2 separate regions of the Homo sapiens genome follow, and region 1 is linked to region 2. The links come from fine-mapping of genetic effects on gene expression. A gene starts in region 2. The other region holds a variant in brackets. All regions are shown on one strand. Distances are from middle to middle. Region 1 overlaps KCNK13 (potassium two pore domain channel subfamily K member 13). Region 2 holds the start of KCNK13 (potassium two pore domain channel subfamily K member 13).

The links.
Region 1: its variant is fine-mapped to the expression of KCNK13 in blood mononuclear cells (TOPMed, PIP above 0.99). The same link has a PIP of 0.9 or more in monocytes, monocytes after LPS, monocytes after R848, tibial nerve and whole blood.

The regions. Positions count from the first base shown.
Region 1 is chr14:90,081,141-90,091,749 of GRCh38, reverse strand. The region is part of intron 1 of KCNK13 (potassium two pore domain channel subfamily K member 13); the gene reads right to left. Among named protein-coding and RNA genes, the nearest start is that of KCNK13, 24 kb to the right of the region's middle. RefSeq lists an enhancer at 1,828-2,328. The variant C/T (reference allele first, on the strand shown) is at 4,289.
Region 2 is chr14:90,058,021-90,068,341 of GRCh38, reverse strand. KCNK13 (potassium two pore domain channel subfamily K member 13) reads right to left here and starts at 6,348. Exons shown (of 2, transcript NM_022054.4): 1 at 5,803-6,348. The coding sequence starts at 6,136. It overlaps LOC124903406, which reads right to left. Exons shown (of 3, transcript XM_047432048.1): 2 at 7,431-7,940; 3 at 6,609-6,980. The coding sequence ends at 6,716. RefSeq lists enhancers at 6,406-6,905, 6,906-7,407 and a silencer at 7,656-8,045.

The DNA of each region.
Region 1 (10,609 bases), 23 kb before region 2:
CAAACCTCACTTCCTAAATCATCTTCAGGAGCACTCTACCCCACCGAGAAGAGGGTATTGGCATGTCTTTTACCCTTCATGCATCACTGTCTGCATGGAACTCATAAATAATGAGGCATTTGGCATGCCCAGTGTTCTGCATTCCAGGTTTAAGAGCAGCCTTTCCCCCAGAAACAGGCTTTTGGGCATTATCCAAAATCAACATGGATGGTATCCAACAAGACCTTAGAGATGCTATTTTTCTTTGACTGTGCTGTGTCAACTGGCTACTGTATAGGACTTGATACATTTTTAATGACTGTACTGAGTTTCCTCTGAACTTGTCACTTTTCACCATTTCCAGTTAGTGGGTCTTAATTTCCCATAGGAAAACCTTTAGCCAGCCATAGAGTTCATTCTTTACCGGTTCGATTCTCATTAATTAAATATCCTAAGTGGAAAAGCTCTTGCGCCTACTGATTGGGACACCCAGAGGGAAATCAACAAGAATGGAATAAAATCTCCATGCACCCCATCAGGAAAACCTTGACTGCTCCATGATCAAACTGGATGCAATTTAAAAAAATAATATCATGTGGGGCCCTCTAACTCTTTCTTGAGATTCTGATTAAAAATCTAGGTGATAAGATCACTTGGTTCACATATCTCAGAGACAAGAGGAACCTCGGCACTTGAGCCAAGGGACAGGAAAGAGGTCAAACATAGAGATGAATGGCAGGTGACACTCAGCCTAGGCAGGTGGGACCAGAAGAAGCACTGAGCTCCCTGTATTATTCTGTTTTCATGCTGCTGATAAAGGTACCCGAGACTGGCAAAAAAGAGGTTTAATGGACTTATAGTTCCACATGGCTGGGAAGGCCTCACAGTCATGGCAGAGGGCAAGGAGGAGCAAGTCATGCCTTACATGGATGGCGGCAGGCAAAGAGAGCTTGTGAAGGGAAACTCCTGTTTTTAAAACCACCAGATCTCATGAGACACATTCACTATCACGAGAATAGCATGGGAAAACCCACCTCCATGATTCAATTACCTCCCACTGGGTTCCTCTCATGACACGTGGGAATTGTGAGAGTTACAATTCGAGATGAGATTTGGGTGGGGACACAGCCAAACCATATCATTCTGCCCTGGCCCCTCTCAAATATCATGTCCTCACATTTCAAAACCAATCATGCCTTGCCAACAGTCCCCCAGAATCTTAACTCATTTCAGCATTAACTCAAAAGTCTACAGTCCAACATCTCATTGGAGACAAGGCAAGGCCCTTCTGCCTATAAGCCTGTAAAATCAAAAGCAAGTTAGTTACTTCCTAAATACAATGGGGGTTCAGGCATTGGGTATACCCACTCCAAATGGGAGAAACTGGCCAAAATAAAGGGGTTACAGGCCCCATGCAAGTCTGAAATCCAGCAGGGCAGTCCAATCTTAGAGCTCCAAAATTATCTCCTTTGACTCCATGTCTCACATCCAGGTCATGCTGATGCAAGAGGTGGGTTCCCATGGTCTTGGGCAGCTCTGCCCCTGTGGCTTTGCAGGACACAGCCTCCCTCCCGGCTGCTTTCATGGCTGGTATTGTCTGGCTTTTCCAGGCACATGGTGCAAGCGGTCGGTGGATTGACCATTCTGGGGTCTGGAGGATAGTGGCTTTCTTCTTACAGCTCTGCTATGTGGTGCCCCAGTAGGGGCCCCCAGTAGGGACTCTTTGTTGGGGCTACAACCCCACACTTCCACACTGCCCTAGCAGAGGTTCTCCATGAGAGCCCCGCCCCTTCAAGCAAACTTCCACCTGGACATCCAGGCATTTCCACCATCCTCGGAAATCTAGGCAGAAGTTCCCAAACCTCAATTCTTGACTTCTGTGCACCTGCAGGCTCAACACCACACGGAAGCTACCAAGGCTTGGGGCTTGCACCCTCTGAAGCCACAGCCTGAGCTGTACCTTGGCCCCTTTTAGTCATGGCTGGATTGTCTGGGACACAGGACACCAAATCCCTAGACTGCACACAGCACGGGGACCCTGGGCCTGGCCCACAAAGCCATTATTTTCCTAGGCCTCCGGGCCTGTGATGGGAGGGGCTACTGTGAAAACCTCTGACATGCCCTGGAGATATTTTCCCCATTGTCTTCGGGATTAACATTTGGCTCCTCGTTACTTATGCAAATTTCTGCAGCCAGCTTGAATTTCTCCTCGGAAGATGGGATTTTCTTTTCTATCATATTGTCAGGCTGCAAATTTTCCAAACTTTATGCTCTATTTCCCTTATAAAACTGAATGCCTTTAACAGCACCTTCAATAGCACCTCTTGAATGCCTTGCTGCTTAGAGATTTCTTTTGCCAAACACCCTACATCATCTCTCTCAAGTTCAAAGTTTCACAAATCTCTAGGGCAGGGGCAAAATGCCTTGAGTCTCTTTGCTGAACATAACCAGAGTCATCTTTGCTCCAGTTCCCAACAAGTTCTTCATCTTTGTCTGAGACCACCTCAGCCTGAACCTTATCGTTCATATCACTATCAGCATTTTTGTCCAAGCTATTCAACAAGTCTCTAGGAAGTTCCAAACTTTCCCACATTTTCCTGTCTTTTTCTGAGCCCTCCAAACTGTTCCAGTCTCTGCCTGTTACCCAGTTCCAAGGTTGTTTCCACATTTTCAAGTATCTTTTCAGCAATGCCCCACTCTACTGGTATCAATTTACTCTATTAGTCTGTTTTCATGCTGCTGATAAAGACATATCCGAGACTGGGAAGAAAAAAAGGTTTAATGGACTTACGTTCCACATGGCTGGGGGGCCTTACAATCATGGCAGAAGACAAGGAGGAGAAGTCAAGTCTTACATGGATGGTGGCAAGCAAAGAGAGCTCATGCAGGGAAACTCCTGTTTCTGAAACCATCAGATCTCATGAGACTCATTCTCTATCATGAGAATAGCACAGGAAAGACTCAACCCCATAATTCAATAACCTCCCATCAGGTTCCTCCCATGACACGTGGGAATTGTGGGAGTTACAATTCAAGATGAGATTTGGGTGGGGTAAGAGCCAAACCATATCACTCCCCAAAGGGATCATCTGTAGCTCATCTTCAGTGAATGGCTGGCACAGAGGAATGTGGGCCTGACATTGCCAGATTTTCCATTTTCCCAAGAGAAATCAGAAATCTATATTTCGACTGGGAAATCTGATGTTAAAAAGTTGACAGTGAATTCAGGTTTTCTCAAGCACTCTGAGGTCCACAGCAGTGAGGTGGAGCTGGCTGGGAAAGGCGCCTGAGAGCTGACTGTGCACATCTCTTCTCTATTCTGCCTTCTGCCTTCGGGAACTTCACTTTTATGGCTTGAAACCAGCCATTGTGGGAATATTTACACCACAGAAATAGGCAAATGCTATGAATCAGAGCTTTCTTTCTTTCTTTCTTTCTTTTTAAGCTTGTTGTTAAACATTTACCAACTCATCAACATCTGTGGACCTAATAAAGCATGTTGCCTTTGGTCCAAGGCCAGTGGCAATTTCTAATTTAAACTTAAGCAAGAAGCCAGCCTGGGCAACATGGTGAAACCCTGTCTCTACTACAAATACAAAAATTAGCCAGGCATGGTGGCACACACCTGTAATCCCAGTTACCCGGGAGGCTGAGGTGTAAGAACCGCTTAAACCCAGGAGGTGGAGGTTGCAGTGAGCTGAGATCACACCACTGCACTCCAGCCTGGGTGATAGAGCGAGACTCTGTCTCAAAAATTAAAAAATAAAAATAAATAAATAAATAAACTTAAGCAAGAAGTAGCATTGAATCACCAAGAAGCAATATTATATATTCCAAAATCAGCATTTACAGCCAAGTATACATGGCATGCTGAAACCACAGGGTAGGTGGTGGGCTAAGCACCAGAAGGACATCATCACTAGCTGAGAAGGCAGAGACAAGGGAGCAGGGCGGGAACTCTGAACAAAGTCCCCTACACTGTACAAAGGGTACTCTATAAATAGGACATTTCCAAATGCTTGCTTCTTCCCCCACTGCTCTAAGGGACTGTGGTAAATTATGCTGCCAATGATGACCCTCAGCACCTGGCAACATCCTGAAATGGCTTCTGAATCATCACAAAGAGCTGAGATTATGCTGCGCAGTGATTGAGCAACGAGAGTGTTGCAAGTCCGTTTTCAAACAACTACAAGTGGATGAATGCTCTATCATGAGAAGCGGGGATGGAGGCAGTGGCAGGTTCCCTTTTTCTCTTCATTCAAAACTAGCCTAACCTTGGTCTGGTTCTCAATTCCTGTTTTCTGCTACC[C/T]GGAGCCTTTGGCAGTCTGGGGAAGTGTATTGGTCCCTTCTTAGAATAATTTATTTTTAATGAATGAAATAAAATGTATAAAATTACAAAAGCAGCTGTATTAAAACACAGTTACTAAACAATGAAATAAATGTGCGACACATTAAATGTGCTTTGTTATTAAACCACGAAATAATGGCCTGGGCAAGTGGCTCTTGCCTGTAATCCCAGCACTTTGAAAGGCTGAGGCAGGCAGATTGCTTCAGCCCAGGAGTTTGAGACCAGCCTGGGCAACATAGTGAGGCCCCATCTCAATAAAAAAAAAAAATATATATATATATATATATATATATGTATATATATATGTATATATATATAAAATGAAATAATAAAATTAAGGCTAATAACCACCATGATTTTAAGGTAGTGGTGAGGGTGAAGGATAAGGGATCTGCCCTGACTATCAGGTGGAGGGAATGGATCTGTGATTTCACTGGTGCCAAAGCTACAGGCCCTGCTCATCCTATGTCAGGGTTGTTACCTACATTCATCATTCATCATTGGAAGATATGCTCAAGGTTAGTCCCTCAGGGGTTAGTTGGATGCCAGTAAATATAAAGATGGAATTATTTTACCATCTACATTTATAGATGCTCTGAATTCTATTCATGGGCCCGGCTTAAGAACTCCTGCAGTCAGGTTGGGCCAATAGTAAGAACTCAATAAATTCTGACTGAACCAAACTGAGGTTTACATTTGATATGGGATGAGTGCTGGGTGTGGTTCTAAGGAGATAAGCAGGGAAGAAAGACACCATTCAAACCAAGCATGGGACCCCCAGACGTCTTCCTTAGTATACAACCTGGCAGCCCTGTTTCTTCAAAGCAATAGCCTGCAAAATATATTCATCAGTAACATCAAATAAAACACAAAAACATCCACTGATGACAAAAAGAAATACTGAACCGGGGCCATAGGTTTTATTTCAGTTTTCACTAGAATTTTGACTATCTTGGAGGCTACCCACCACTTCTCCCAGTTTAAATCATGGCTGAACAAAGTTTGAAACAAAGTTTTACCACCTACTAGCTGTGTGGCTTTGGGCAAGCTATGTAACCTCTGTGCTTCAGTTTTCTCACCTATAGAATGGGGGAAAATAATAGTCCTACCCCATAGGATGAAAGTTTATCTATGTAGAGCTCTTTGTATAGTACCACAGGAGAGGAAAAATATAGTATATGTTAGCAGTGAGAATAAGATTATTGCAAATTAGCTGACAATATTTAAATTTAAAAATTCTCCAAAACTTGGCAGTACCTATAAAATATTTAAAATTTAAATACTACAGTGAAAATATGGTGTATAAAGCAGTTGTGCTAGCAAATAATTAGCAATAACCTATGTCTTACAATAGGAAGAATGGTTAAATTAATGAATATCCATATCATAGTTAAGTATCCTGGGCAACCTCACAAAGATACAAGAACTACGAATGAACATGCCCCAACTAATTCTATAGATCTATAGTATTATCCTGATACCAAAACAAGACAAAGGGCATAAGAAAAGGAAAAAGGGCACAAGAAAAGGAAAAAGGTAGATAGATAGATATAAATTTATATATTATATATTTATATAATATCTATATAATATATAATATATAATATATAATATAATATATAATATAAAGTATATAATATATAATATATATAATTTATATAATATATAATATATAATTATATAAGTATATATATATTATATATAAGTATATATAATATATAAATTTATATACATAAATAAAATATATATATATATTTTTTTTTGAGACAGAGTCTCACTCTGTCACCCAGGCTGGAGTGCAATGGCATGGATCTCAGCTCACTGCAACCTCCGCCTCCCGGGTTCAAATGATTCTCCTGCTTCAGACTCCTGAGTAGCTGGGAGTATAGGCATGTGCCACCATGCCCGGCTAATTTTTGTATTTTTAGTAGAGACAGGGTTTCGCCATGTTGGCCAGATTGGCCTCAAACTCCTGACCTCAGGTGATCCACTCGCCTCGGCCTCCCAAAGTGCTAGTATTACAGGAATAAGCCACTATGCCCGGCCTATTTCTTTTGAATACTGATGCAAAAATCCTAAACAAAATACTAGCAAACCAAATGCAGCAACATATTAAAAAAATTATACACCATAATCAAGTAGGACTTATCTCAAGATTGATTTAATATCCGAAAATTAGGCTGGGCACAGTGGCTCACACCTGTAATCCTAGCACTTTGGGGAGGCCAAAGTGGGTGGATTGCTTGAGGTCAGGAGTTCAAGACCAGCCTGGCCAACATGGTGAAACCCCATCTCTACTAAAAATACAAAAAATTAGCTGGGCGTCGTGGCACACGCCTGTAATCTCAGCTACTCCAGAAGCTGAGGCACAAGAATCGCTTGAACCTGGGAGGCAGAGGTTGCAGTGAGCCAAGATCACGCCACTGCACTTCAGCCTGGGGGACAGAGTGAAACTCCATCTCAAAATAAATAAATAAATGAATAATAATAAAAAACAAAAATCAATGCAAAACATTATATAAATAGCATAAAAAATAAAACCACATGATCATCTCAATAGATGTGGAAAAAGAATTTGGCAAAAATCTAACAGCTCTTTGTGATAAAAACATTCAACACACTAGAAATAGAAGGGATCTTTCTCAACCTGGTAAAGGCCATCTACAAAACCAATTTCATACTCAATAGTGAAAGACTGAAACTTTCCTTCAAGATCAGGAATAAGATAAAGAGGCCCACTCTTATCATCTCTATTCGACATTGCAGTGGGAGTTCTAGTCAAGCATGAAATAAAGGAAATAAAAGAAATCCAGATGGGAAAGAAAGAACTAAAACTATCTGGACACACAGGTGACATATTCATGTATATAGAAAATCCTAAGGAACTGACTGAAAATTTTTAGAGTTAATACATTAGCGTAGCAAGGCCACAGGATACAAGACCAACATGCAAAAACTAATTCCATTTCTACACACTTGCAATAAACAATTCAAAATAAAATCAAGAAAACCATTTCATTTGCAATAGGATTAAAATAATGAATGACTTAAGAAATTTTTTTAAAGTCCAAAACTTATGCTCCAAAAAACTATAAAACATTGTTTAAATAAATTAAAGGATCAAAATAAATGGAAAGACATCCCATGTTCATAGATTGGAACACTTAATATTGTTAAGATGGCAAAATTCCCCAAATTAATTCAATGTAAGTCTTCTTTGCAGTAATTGATAAACTGATGTTAAAATTCACATGAAGTTCAAGGGACCCAGAATAGCCAAAACAATCTTGGGGGAAAAAAAACCAACAACATTGGAGGACTCACACTTCCTGATTTCAAAATTTACTACAAAGCCACAGTAATCAAGACACTAGAATAAGGACAGACAGATAGGTCAATGGAATAGAATTGAGAGTCCAGATGTCAATTTCATGTTTATGGTTAATTGATTTTTGTCAAGTGTGCTAAAACAATTAAATGGGGCTAAGACTAGTGATTTTTGTCAAGTGTGCTAAAACAATTAAATGGGGCTAAGACTAGTCTTTTCAACAAATGATGCTGGAACAACTGGATATCCACATGCAAAAGAATTAAGTTGGATCCTGTCTTAGTCCATTCTGTGGTGTTATAACAAAATACCGCAGACTGGGCAATTTACAAAGAACAGAAATTTACTTCTTAGAATTTTGAGGCTTCAAAGTCCAAGATCAAGACACTGACAGTTTGAAAGGGTCTTCTTGCTGTCATCACAGGAGGGAATACATCACATCGTGGAAAGGCAAGGAGAGAGAGAAGGAGGCCAAACATGCCCTTTTATAACACAATTAATCCCATCCAAGTGGGCAGAGCCCTCATCACCTAATCACCTCTTAAAGGTCCCACCTCTTTATATTGTTATAATGGCAATTAAATTTCCATGTGAGTTGTGGAGGAAACAAACACTGAAACCACAGCAGACCCATGTTTCATACCATGCACAAAAATTAACTCAAAATGGATCAACAACCTGAATGTAAGAGTGAAACTATAAAACTCTTAGAAGAAAACATAAGTATAAATCTTCATGACCTTAGATTAGGTAATGGTTTCTTACAATATGACACTAAAAGCATAAGCAACAAAAGGAAAAATAGAACTCTATCCAATAAATTGGACTTTATCAAAATTTAAAGCTTTGGTGCTTCAAAGAACATCAAGAAGATAGTGAAAAGACACCCACAGAAGGGGGAAATATTTGCAAATCATATATCAGTTAATGGACTTGAACCTAGAATATATAAAGCACTTTCATAACTCAGTAATAAAAGGACAAATAACCCAATTAAAAGATGGGCAAAGAATCTGAACAGATCTTTCTTTTAAGATAGTATACAAATGGCCAATAAACACACAAAAATGCTCAGTATCATTTGTCATTAAAGAAATGCAAATCAAAACCACAATATTATACTATTTCACATCCAAAGAGAGATAGTAAAGTGTTGGAAAGGGTGTGGAGAAATTGGAACCCTTGTACACTGTCGGTGGGAATATACAATGTTATAGCCATTTTGGAAGTTTGTCCAAAGATAAAGAATAGGGTTACTACATGACCTAGCAATTCCAAACCTACATGCTCAAGAGAAATGAAAACATATGTCCACACAGAAAACTTGTGTTCTGTGGACATACGTTTTTATAAACTTATTCGACATTGTATGGTATTATTCATAGTAGCTAAAAAGTGGAAACAATGTAAATGTCCATCAACTGATTAACTGATAAATAAAATGTGGTACATTCATGTAGCAGAATATTATCTGGCAACAAAAAGGAGAGAAGTACTAATACATGCTACAACTTGGCTCACTTGAAAACATGCTAAGTGAAAGAAGTCAGTCACAAAAGCCCACATGTTGTATGATTCCATTTATATGAAATGTCCAGAATAGGCAGATCTATAGAAATAGAAAGTAGATTATTGGTTGCCTAAGGCTGGAGGGGATAGTGTCTTAGTTCATTATGTGTTGCTCAGGTAACACAATACCTGAGACCAGATAATTAATAAAGAAAAGAGGAGGCCAGGCACGGTGGCTCATGCCTGTAATCCTAGCACTTTGGGAGGCCGACATAGGCAGATCATCTGAGGTCAGGAGTTCAAGACCAGCCTGGCCAACATGACAAAACCCTGTCTCTACTAAAAAAAAAAAAAAAATTAGCTGGGTGTGGTGGCATATGCCTATAGTCCCAGCTACTGGGGAGGCTGAGGCAGGAGAATCACTTAAGCGCAGGAAGCAGAGGTTGCAGTGAGCTGAGATCATGCCACTGCACTCCAGCTCGGGCAACAAAGTGAGACTCTGTTTTGAAAAAGAAAACAGGTTTATTTAGCTCATGGTTTTGCAGGCTGGGAAGTTCAAGATTGAGCAACTGAATCTAGTGGCTTCTGGCAAGAGCTTCACACTGCATCAAAATATGGTGGAGAAATGGAAAGGAAAACAGGCAAAATATGAGAGGCAACCTCCCTTTATAACAATCCACTCTCACTGGAACTAATCCATTCCTGAGAGAACCAACCCAGTCTGGAGAGAAAGACATTAATGGATCTTAATGTCCTCATCATTCCTTCAAGGCGCCACCTCCCAACACTGCCACACTGGGACCAAGCCTCAACATGAGTTATCGTGGGGACAAACCATATTCAAACCATAACAGGGGGCAAACGCTAAAGGGTATGAGGTTTCTTTTTTCAGAACTTGAAATGTCCTAAAATTGATGGTGATGATGGTTGCAAAACTCTGTAAATATGCTAAAAACCACAGAATTGTATACCTTAAATAGATGAATTTTATGGTATGTGAATTATACATTGATAAAGCTGTTAAAGAAGAACCATCAGTAGGTGTAAAAAATGAATTTGCAAAAACTACATAAAGAACCACATATATGTGTGAAGGACCTCATGTGTGTGTGCTTGGGCTTACATGTTTGTGGATGAGAAAACAATTCTGGAAAGATCCACATCCAACTCTTGGAGTTGGTTATTTCCGGAGAGTAGGATGGGGGAGCAAAGGGAGACTGGTTTTTTACTTTAAATACTTTGAAATGATTTGAAAATGCATCCAAATGCATACATATTAAGAATTTTTTAATGGAAAAAGTATTTTTAAAAAGAAAACCCACCTTGCAGTTAATAATTGAAGTTAAAGTTTGGGGAGAGAGGACCACGCACTCACAATCTTGTGTTTCCAAATTTTGCCTTTGGCCTAGAACTTCCCAACTAATGGAAATCACCACATATTTTCA
Region 2 (10,321 bases):
ATTACAGGCATGAGCCACCCCGCTGGGCCCAACACGTGCTTTTTTAGCCTGGAAGAAACATTTCTTCTGCAACTTGCCACAAAGGGGATGGGATAACGTTTCCCTGACCCTTTGAAGTAGGGAGTGGTGGTTCTGTGACTTGATTTGGCCAAGGATGTGGGAGTGGAGGGGACCTGTGCTACTTGCAGGTGGTGGTGGCCATTTAATCATTGGTGCTTGACTCTTCAGCCCTTTCTTCCCCTTCTAGAGCAATCCTGGAAGCATGTGCTGAGGAAGAGGAGCCAAGAGACAGAAGAGGCCTGAAGCGCTGGGGCAACACAGAGACAACCGCCCGGCAGCATCACCAGCACCCACAGTGAACTTGGTGTGGGTAAGAAGTACACTTTTATTACATTAAGCTACTGAGATTTTGGGAGTAGCTTGTTACTGCAGCAAAACCTAAGCCTTCCCCGACTCTGTCAAATGCAGAGTACCTCAAACCCTTTGGGGACAGAAGCTACCTACAGATATACCAGCAAACACGGGGACAAGCTCCTAACAAAAGCTAGTTTCAGAGAAAAGATATTCACAGAAGATCATTTACAAGACATACTGTCATTCTACTTTTCTGAGTACTTTAAGTTTATCCCTGTTTCACGTCTGATCTCCAGCCTTTTTCAGAATCAACATTTCTGAATTGTGTTTTAATACTCTGCCCTGAGGTTTTCTTTACTGCAGTCAAATATACTTAACATATTTATCATTTTAACCATTTAAAAGTGTACAATTCAATAGCATTAAATATAATTGCAATGTTGTACAACCATCACCACTATCTATACCCAAAATGTTTTCAGTATCCCAAACTGAAAGTACCCATTAAACAATAACTCCCACTTCTGGCCGTCCCTCAGCCCCTGGTAACCTGTATTTTAATTTATCTCTATGAATTTGCCTATTCTAAGTACCTCATATAAATGGAATCATATGATATTTGTCCTTCTGTGTCTGGCTTATTTTACTAAGCATAATTATTTTCAAGGTCCATCTATGTTACAGCATATATCAAAATTTCATTCCTTTTCGTTTTTTTCTTGAGATGGTCTCACTCTGTCACCCAGGCTGGAGTGCATTGGCGCGATCTCAGCTCACTGCAACCTCTGCCTCCCAGGTTCCAGCAATTCTCCTGCCTCAGCCTCCCAAGTAGCTGGGACTACAGGCACAGGCCACCACACCCAGCTAATTTGTTTATTTTTAGTAGAGACAGGGTTTCACCATATTGGCCAGGCTGGTCTCGAACTCCTGACCTCGTGATCCACCTGCCTTGGCCTCCCAAAGTGTTGGGATTACAGGCATGAGCCACCGTGCTTGGCCAATTTCATTCCTTTTTTTTTGGCTGAATCATATTCCATTGTATGTAGCCCACATTTGGTTAATTCATTCATCCGTTGATGGGCACTTGGGTTGTTTGGATATTGTGAATAATGCTGCTATGAACACTGGCGTACAAATATCTGTTTGAATCCCTACTTTTGATTTTTTTTTGGATATATACCTAGAAATGGAATTGCTGGGTCATAAAGTAGTTCTATGTTTAACCTGTAGAGAAACTGGCAAACTGTTTTTCACTCTAAGCTCTGACTTTTAAGTCAAAAGTCTCAATTAGATCACAGCTACATGAAATCCTCAATAGCATTTTCCAGGAAAATATTGTTTGTGAATATCATCTGTTGTCCTACACAATGTCTCCTACATATAATCCCAAAGAGAAAATACTTTTGAGAATTAGGTACTGGGGCCAGGTGCAGTGGCTCACACCTGTAATCTCAGCACTTTGGGAGGCTGAGGTGGGCGGATCACTTGAGACCAGGATTTCAAGACCAGCCTGATCAACATGGTGTAGCCCTCTCTCTACTAAAAATACAAAAATTAGCTGGGTGTGGTGGCTTGCACCTGTAATCCCAGCTACTTGGGAGGCCAAGGCAGGAGAATTGCTTGCACCTGGGAGGCACGGACGTTGCAGTGAACCAAGCTCATGCCACTGCACTCCATCCTGGGTGGCAAATTGAGACTCCCTCAAAAAATAAAAAAATAAAAAGTGGGTCACACCTGTAATCCCAGCACTTTGGGAGGCTGAGACAGGAGGATCACTTGAGGTCAAGAGTTTCAGACCAGCCTGGCCAACATGTCAAAACCCCATCTCCACTAAAAAAAAAAAAAAAAATACAAAAATTAGCTGGGCCTGGTGGTGCACACCTGTAATCCCAGCTACTTGGGAAGCTGAGGCAGGAGAACTGCTTGAACCCGGGAGGCAGGGGTTGCAGTGAGCCAAGATTGTGCCACTGCACTCAAGCCTAGGTGACAGGGCAAGACTCTGTCTCAAAAAAGGAGAATTAGGTACTGGAAAGGTTTATGTTTCCTCGTTTCTGATATTAAGAATTCTAGTATGGGTCATGACTCTGTCTGCCATGAAGCCTGAAACCAAATCTGAAGCTTGCTGGTTCTCTGCCTTCCATGGGATTCCCCACCATTCCTTGGGATCGTGTTATCATTTCCTGGCACACTGGCCTCATTTCCAACAGCAGAGCCTATCTCTGCGTGAGGGCTACCCTTGGGCTGTCCATGAAAGAAAATAAGGCCAGAAGTACCTGGAAATTACATCCCCGTGCTCCTTTCTCATCCTCCCCAGACAGCTTTTTAACCAATTCCTGACAGGTGTGGTTGTGTAAACATCCCAGCTTTCTTGCATGGGATATCTGGGTCAAGAGCTTTGCTTTGCTTCCAAGCTTCCATTTGGGATTAGGTACCAGTTGCCCACTGTGGCACCTGCCTTAATAGCGTATCCTGGATTAACTTACTTTCCTTCCTCGATTCACTTTCCCTTGCACCGACCTGTATCCCTTGCTCCTCCCAACAAACTGCTTACACTCAAATTCTTGGCTCAAGCTCTGCTTCTAAGGGAACCCAAACTAAGACAAAGTTCCTCTCTAGCAACTTCGTAGCTCCACTTGCATCCCGTATTTCTGTTCTTCTTTTCCCTGGTTCTGAAGTTTTATTTGTATTTTATGATTATTTTCCTGTATACTTTGTCTGCTACCTCAAAGTCTTTGCAGAATAAAGCATGGTGGAATTAATTTTTAGAGGAAAAACACCATCATGTAATGTTACAATAAAAATGCAAGATATGAGTGGTTTATAGAATATAATTCTAATTTTTAAAAATGCATATGTATATAAGTATACGCAGAGGAAAAAGGAGACCAGAAGAAAATGGACCAAAACATGAACAGTGGTTAATTTGGATGATATTACTGCATATAACTTGATTTTTTTCTTCTTTATACTTTATTTTACAAAAAACCTGAACCTTCAGCTTTTTCATCTATAACGGGGGAGTGTTATGCCTACCTCATGGAGTTGTGTTGGCTGAAATGAAGTGTGAATGTCACACAGCAATGAGCTGCATTGCACATTCACATAATAATCATACAGTATGTGCCTAATACGGGCCTGATAAAGGTTAGCCAGTGCTGTTATTACAACAATTAGTGAAACAATTTAAAAGGAAATGTTACAAATGAGAAATAAAAATCAGCCCACACTGACATCATGTTTTTTACCTTTTAACACGCACGCACTTACAAGAGCTCATTGTCCCTCACAAGAACCCTGTGACAGGGGCAGGCTTACGCAGACGGAGGGAGCAGGGGGCAGGACTAATATTCACCAAATAGCTGATGTGCCAGATACCAAGGTGGGCACTCTGTAGATGCCTCAGATGAGAAAAGGATGGGGCTCGGAATAGTTAAGAGGCTTGCCCAAGATACAGAGGCAGGATGAAAAGCTCCCACTCCAGACTCTTTGTCCAGGTTTCTTTCCACTCCTCCATGCCACATTGTCATATTCGTATCCCCAAAGCCCATGTTCCTATATGGCCACCTACCCATGCCACTCTCAGTTCCTGCTACATGGATGCACCTGTCCACACACACACTCTGCTCCTTCCTGCCTCTGTGCCCACTGGGAGCACCAAGAGATGGTTTTTCATGGTGGTGGGAAAGATTCAGCCATCAAATCTCCCATCAAAACCACCCTAAGTTACCATTCAATCTAAAAAAATCCTGTACTTGCTATGCAAACACAGTAGAGTCAAGGTCACTTCCAAAGTGACACCTCCTAATCAGTTTGTTCATCCCAAGTCTTGCCTATGTGGAGATTCTGGAACTGTCTTCTGGGACGTGGGAGGTGATGTGAGGAGGGGCTTGTGGAACACGGCTAAGAGTCCAGCAGATAGTGTGGGCTCAGGGGGAGAACCATGGGGGTGTTATTCCTCCTTCACCAATCTTGGGCCCATTCTGGTCTGCTGCAAGGTTTCCTGCCTGATACCCAGTTATGGTGGTGCCATCATGGCCTGCTGATGGGCCGCACCATCTGGGATGGGATGGGGGCTGGGAGCCAGGCACTTCAGATACAGCCGGTGTGTCCCTAATCATACTGGTCCTCTGCCTCGCCTCCTGTGCATCAGCTGAAGCCCTGGATTCCTGGACTAGCCCTGGGAAGTCTTTCATGATGAATCTGACCTGAAGCCAATCTCTTTTGTCTTTTGTGCTGCTTCTCCTGGCAGAATGTCTATGTAGCACAGCCATGTGTGGGAGCCTCAAGGAGGCTCAACTTGTCGCCCCACCTCACCAGCGAGCTCTTCTAGAGTGCACAGGGGCAGTAGCTACAGAGCGCTCAGCACATGCACCCTGGGCTGTTTGCAACTGCCAGCCTTTTTTGCAGCTTGGAGGCCACTTCCTCTCCGTCTAACTCTTCCAACCTCCCTCCCCTGCTCCAGGTCTCTTTTTGCCCCCCTCAGAATTTATTTCTACAGCATCTTCCCTAACCCCCATTAATCACTTGATTATTCTTCAAGGATGAACAATCTTTAGGGGTGTGGCGCAGACTCCCCCAAATCATTTTCCTTCTGCTGGGAAATAAACACAGCTGATTGTAGCTGTGCTACATCTTTGCTAAAAAATTCTCAATGGCTCCCAGGTGCCTCTAGGTAAATTCCAGCTCCTCAGTCTGTCAGTGAAGGTCCTACCCCCGCCTCCATCCCATTAGCCAGCAGACCTTCCTAGTCTTCCTTCCACCACTCCAACCAGCTCATGGGGCCCCTGAGTGCGATTCTCTCCTACTCTAGAGTGCAACCGCGCTTTCAGTTCCCAAACCCAAGTTATGCCTAACACGAATTGATTCAGCCCAAAGGTCACTTCCCTGGTTCTTCCTGGTGGAAAATTTTCCATCTTTTGAACCGTCATTGGCACTTTTGCTTCCTCACTTTCAGTCTGCTGTTCTGATTTTTTCTCGGTAAGTGTGAAGTCGAGGGCAGAATCTTTTAAAATCTGCACTTCCCCTCTGACTGACTCAGTAAATGTTTAGTTTCCTGTCCCTATCTGTAAAAGCCTTCTTCCCCATGAACTCAAGCCGTGTCTCCTTCATTAGACTGAAAATCTCCCAGAGCAGAGCGTCTCCAATTTAAGGATCATTCCAATCCTTTGGGGACTTTGTTAACATGCAGATTCTGACTCGGCAGGTCTGCAGAGGGGACTGAGACTGCATTTCTAACAAGCTGCCAGGTGACGCTGAAGCTGCCGGTGCCTGGACCACATTAGAGCAGCGGGGAGGCAATACCACCTGTTGATCAGGCGACAGCTCATGTCAGTGGAGTCTGGCTGGGCGCCCAGATGGATGAATGAAAGGATGAGAGGGTCGGTCCTGCCCCCCGGAGGAAGTGGAGGCCGCCCGGAGGTTGTCAGCGAGTCCGGCCAGCACACTTACCTATGGTGGAAACGACGGTGCCCACGAAGTAGAAGGCGCCGGTGAAGTCCCAGCGCGGGCGGACGTTGTCCACGCGGATGCCGGCCCGAGTGGCCTCCTCGTAGTGGCGGAGGAAGCCGCGCAGCTCGTCGCGGCTCAGGTTGTGGCCGCGGCTGAAGTTGGCCAGGCGCTCCTCCCAGCGCTGCTTGGCCTGGCGCTCGTGCGCCAGCTCCAGCGCGGAGAAGACGGCGGCGCCGCCCAGCAGGTAGAGCACGATGAGCGCGGCCAGCAGCAGAAAGCGCGCGTTGTCCTCGTTCAGGTGGCCCGGGCCCCAGCTGAAACCCCGGCCAGCCATGGCCGGGCCCCCGGGGGCAGCCCCCAGGCCCACGGCACCGGGCGTCGGCGGAGTCTCGCCCACACCCCCGGGAAATAAGGGCCCCGGCGCTCAGCCAGCTCCCGGGCGCCCCACCGCCGGCTCGCCCATGACCGCCGGGCTCTCCCGCAGGCCGCGAGGCTCCCCCGGCCGCCGCCTCGGTAGCTCCTGTGGCGCCAGCTCCCCACGTCCTCCTTGACTCCTAGTTTCAAATCCGCTTTGTCGCCGCCGTTCCCCTCCACTCCCCCTGCTCTCCTCGGAGTTCTCCTTAACGCTGAAGGTCCCGGGGAACGGGCGCAGAGTTCACGTCTGCTTGGCGCTGGGATGCGGGCGCAGTTTCCACCCCGGCTCCCTGTCCGGCTCAGATAGGGGAGGGGGCGTGGCGCGTCTTCAGGGCAAGCTCGAGCCAACTCGAGTTTCCCGCAAAGAGACGGTCGCGGGGCGGGGCGGGGCGGGGCGGGGCGGCGGGGGGGGGGCGCGGTCCGGAGGTCTGCGGGTAAGCAGAGCGCCGGGGTCCTGGGTCCTGGTTCCTTTGACTATCGCTTCGCAGGCCGCCGACGGCTAGGACACGGGTGTCAGTCTGCTGGCTTTGTAGGTGCCTCCCCAGGTAGATCGACGATGGTGCCTCCTAGTTGTGGTCGTGGTGTCGCGCTGAGCCTGTGGCCTCCCGAGTCTCCGAATCGGCTGCCGGGGCTTAGGGATGGAGGGGGTCCAGGGCGGGCGCACGGAGAGAGGGGCTGTGCTGAGCGGCGTCCGAGGGCTGCGGCGTCCGAGGGCTCCGACCTCCGGCCGGGCCCCAACGCTGCGCATCCGTTGGGCGGACGGGCTGGAGAGAGGAGACCAGAAAGGGAGGTTGGAACAGGGAGCAAAGGAAGTTAGGGGCTTCTCCCCCGGGCAGCCTCCCTCGCCTTGACCATGCCAGAGCGCCCTTGGTCTCTGGATCCTGCGCGGGGGCGTCCTCTGCGCCTACTAGTAGGCTCCGCCCGGACCAAGCGCGCACCGCGAGCCAGCCCCGCTTCCGGAGAGGAGGCCAAACACTGGGGGCTGGAAGGGCTCCGCGGCCAGGAGACCTTGACCTTGGAGCGTTCCATCTCTTCCCCCCGGGCTTGGCTGCCTAGTGCGTTCCAGAGTTTTGCCTGGACGCGGGGTCCGCGCAGAAGGCATCCCCCACCTCATGCAGAACAGTAGCAAGGCTCTCCAGCAAACCGCCGGGGCCCCCTCCCCGAGACCCCGCCTTGTAGCGGGCGCTGGCGCCGCTGCCGCGCTCAGATCTCACCTTCCGGGGAGCGCCCTCTCCGCGCCGCTCCGTCGGGACTGTTCCCGGGCCTCCTGGCAGCCGCGGCCCTGCCCTGCCAGCCGGCGCGCGGAGCACAGGTCCGCACCGCGCTCTGCCTTCTCAGGCGGGCGCGCTCCGACGCTGCAACAGGTAGAGCCGTGCGGCTGCCAGCTGCGGCGACTCCACCCTGTCGCCCGCCTCCTTGCGCGCGGGCCCGCCTCCTGCGCTGGTCTCCGCGGGTAGACGCTCGGCGTTCGAAGGGCCGACCCGGGGCTGCGGTGCTCCCACCAGGGCGCGCAGATCTGGGTAGTGGATGCAGAACCGGCTGGTGGGACGCTCAGCCGGTCCGCGTGGGCCCTCCGGGGCCGGGAGAGGGCGCTCTGCCCCCTCCAGACACATCCCGCCCCCGCCCGCGCACACAGCCCCGCGCGGCCCTCCGGAATCACCCGCCCGGGCGTGTGGGAGCGAATCTGTACGCGGAGAGGAATGGATACGTGGGCATCTTCCCACCTTCCGAGAGAGCGGTTTCAGGCGCAGAGCCCCACACACCGCCCTTACGCACCAGGAGCAGAGACAGAAGGGCTAGGAGCCCTGTTGAGTAAAACCGTGTGATTTCGAATAAAGAAACACAGCTCTGGCGAGTGCATTTTCATCAGAAACCCTGGTGCTGTTAGCAGTCCTCTCGGCTCTGTTACTCACTCCCCAATGCCCCTCTTTCATCTAGCCTTCTGAGGGGCAAGAGCTTTAGGGGCATCGCGAGAATGGGTGCATGTGTATACACCCAGGGTGAGTACTGCAATTACCTTTTAAATCCATTTTATTATGAAAAATTTCAAACATTCTAAAAAGTTGAATTTTACAGTGAACACCCGTATACCCACCACCTAGATTCTACAATTAACATGTTACTATACTTGATTTATTAGATATCTACCCGTCCCTCTGTCCATCCATCAACCCATCTTGTTTGGATGCATTTCAGAGTAAGTTGCAGAGCTTGGTACACTTCCGCCCTCATCCCCAGTACTTCTGCCTGCATATCACTACGTAGGGTTCAATATTTACTTGCAGAATTTTTTTCCTTTTCGGATAAAATTTACATACAATGAAATGCACAAATCTTAAGTGTATCATTAGGTGAGTTCTGACAAATGGGTACACCTCTGCAAATCACCTATCCAACCTACCAGCCAAACATCACCAACAGGGTCCCCCTAAGTCCCTTCCCTGTAACTCCCTACCCACATTCCTCCAGAGAAAACCACTGTTCAGAATTTTTCTACCATCGATTACTTTCGCTTTTATAGAACTGTTTTTTTGTTCTAAATCTCCATATAAATGGAATCATGCCGGTATGTACTCTTTGGTGGAAAACATTATGTTTTTGAGATTTACCCATGTTATATGTCTTAGTAATTCCTTCCTCTTTATTGCTAGTTTTTCATTGTTTGGGTATACCATAGTTTGTTTATTCATTCTCCTCCTATTGATAGAAAGGAGAACTGTTAGAAAATTTTGGTCATCATAAATAAAACTGTTAGGAACATTCTTGTACAACTATGTAGACATATGTTTTCATATCTCTTACGTAAAGACCTAGGAGCGGAATTGCTGGGTCATAGGGTAGGTATGTATTTTGCTTTATGAGAAACTGCCCGACATTTTCCCAAAGCAGCTGTACTGACAGTGTACACTAGTTCTGGATGCTCCGTATCTTTGTCAACATTTGGCAGTATCAGTCATTTTAATTTTAAAACTACTGGTGGATGTAGCAATATCTCACTGTGGTTTTAATTTGCATTTCCCTGATGTCTAAAAATACTGGTGGATGTAGCGATATCTCACTGTGGTTTTAATTTGCATTTCCCTGATGTCTAATGCGCTTGCTGGCCACTTGTGTACCTTCTCTTGTGAATTTTCTGTTGAAATATTTTGCCCACTTAAAAAATTAGTTTCTCTGTTACTGAATTATAGAGATCCTTTATATATGCAGGATACGAGTACTTTCTCAGATACATATCTTGCAAATATTTTCTAACTCTGATTTGCCTATTTATTTTCTTAAATATGTTTTCTGTATGTTTGGTGCCCTTTGAGAAATCATTACCTCCTTCAAGGTTGCATAGGTTTTCTGTCTCCCCACACTTTTATATTTGGGTCTACGATCCATTTAAGTTTGTTTCCTTATGGTATGAGGTAAGAGTCAAAGGTCATTTTGTCCAGGTGGATTTCCAGTTATTCCAATGCTATTTGTTGAAAAGATAAATATGCCTGAGTTTCAGGAATTTAATTTGTTCATTATTTGCCCACCCTTATGCTAATACCACAGGATTTACATACTTATAGCTCTATAGTAGGTCTTTAGTGGGACTATAATTGAGTCCTCTAACTTTGTTCTTCTTTTTCAAGATTCTTTGGATGTTATAAAACTTTTACACTTCCACTAAAAAATCATAGAATCAGCTTAATTTCCTCCAAAAAGCTGTGGGATCTTGATTTCTGGGATTGTGTTGGATCTATTTTGGGAAGAACATCTTGACAATTCATGAAAGAGGTATATTCCTCTATTTATTTAGGGTTTCTTAACCAAGTTTTCATATGGAGATTTTGCACATCTCTTGTAAATTCATTCTAAAGTATTTTATATTCTTTTGATGTTATTGTAAATGGAATTTCAAAATTTTACTTTTCAATTGTTTGCTGTAGTCCATAAAAATACACGATTGTTGCAAAAATACTTGAATTCTTCAACCTTGCTACTTTAGTCATCAGTTGTACATGTTTTGTTGATTCCTTTAGGAGTTTCTTTGTAAATAATCATGTCATCTACAAGTTTTGCTTTTTTCTTCCTGATCTTTATCATCTTTTCCCCCTCTTGTCTGCAACGGCTA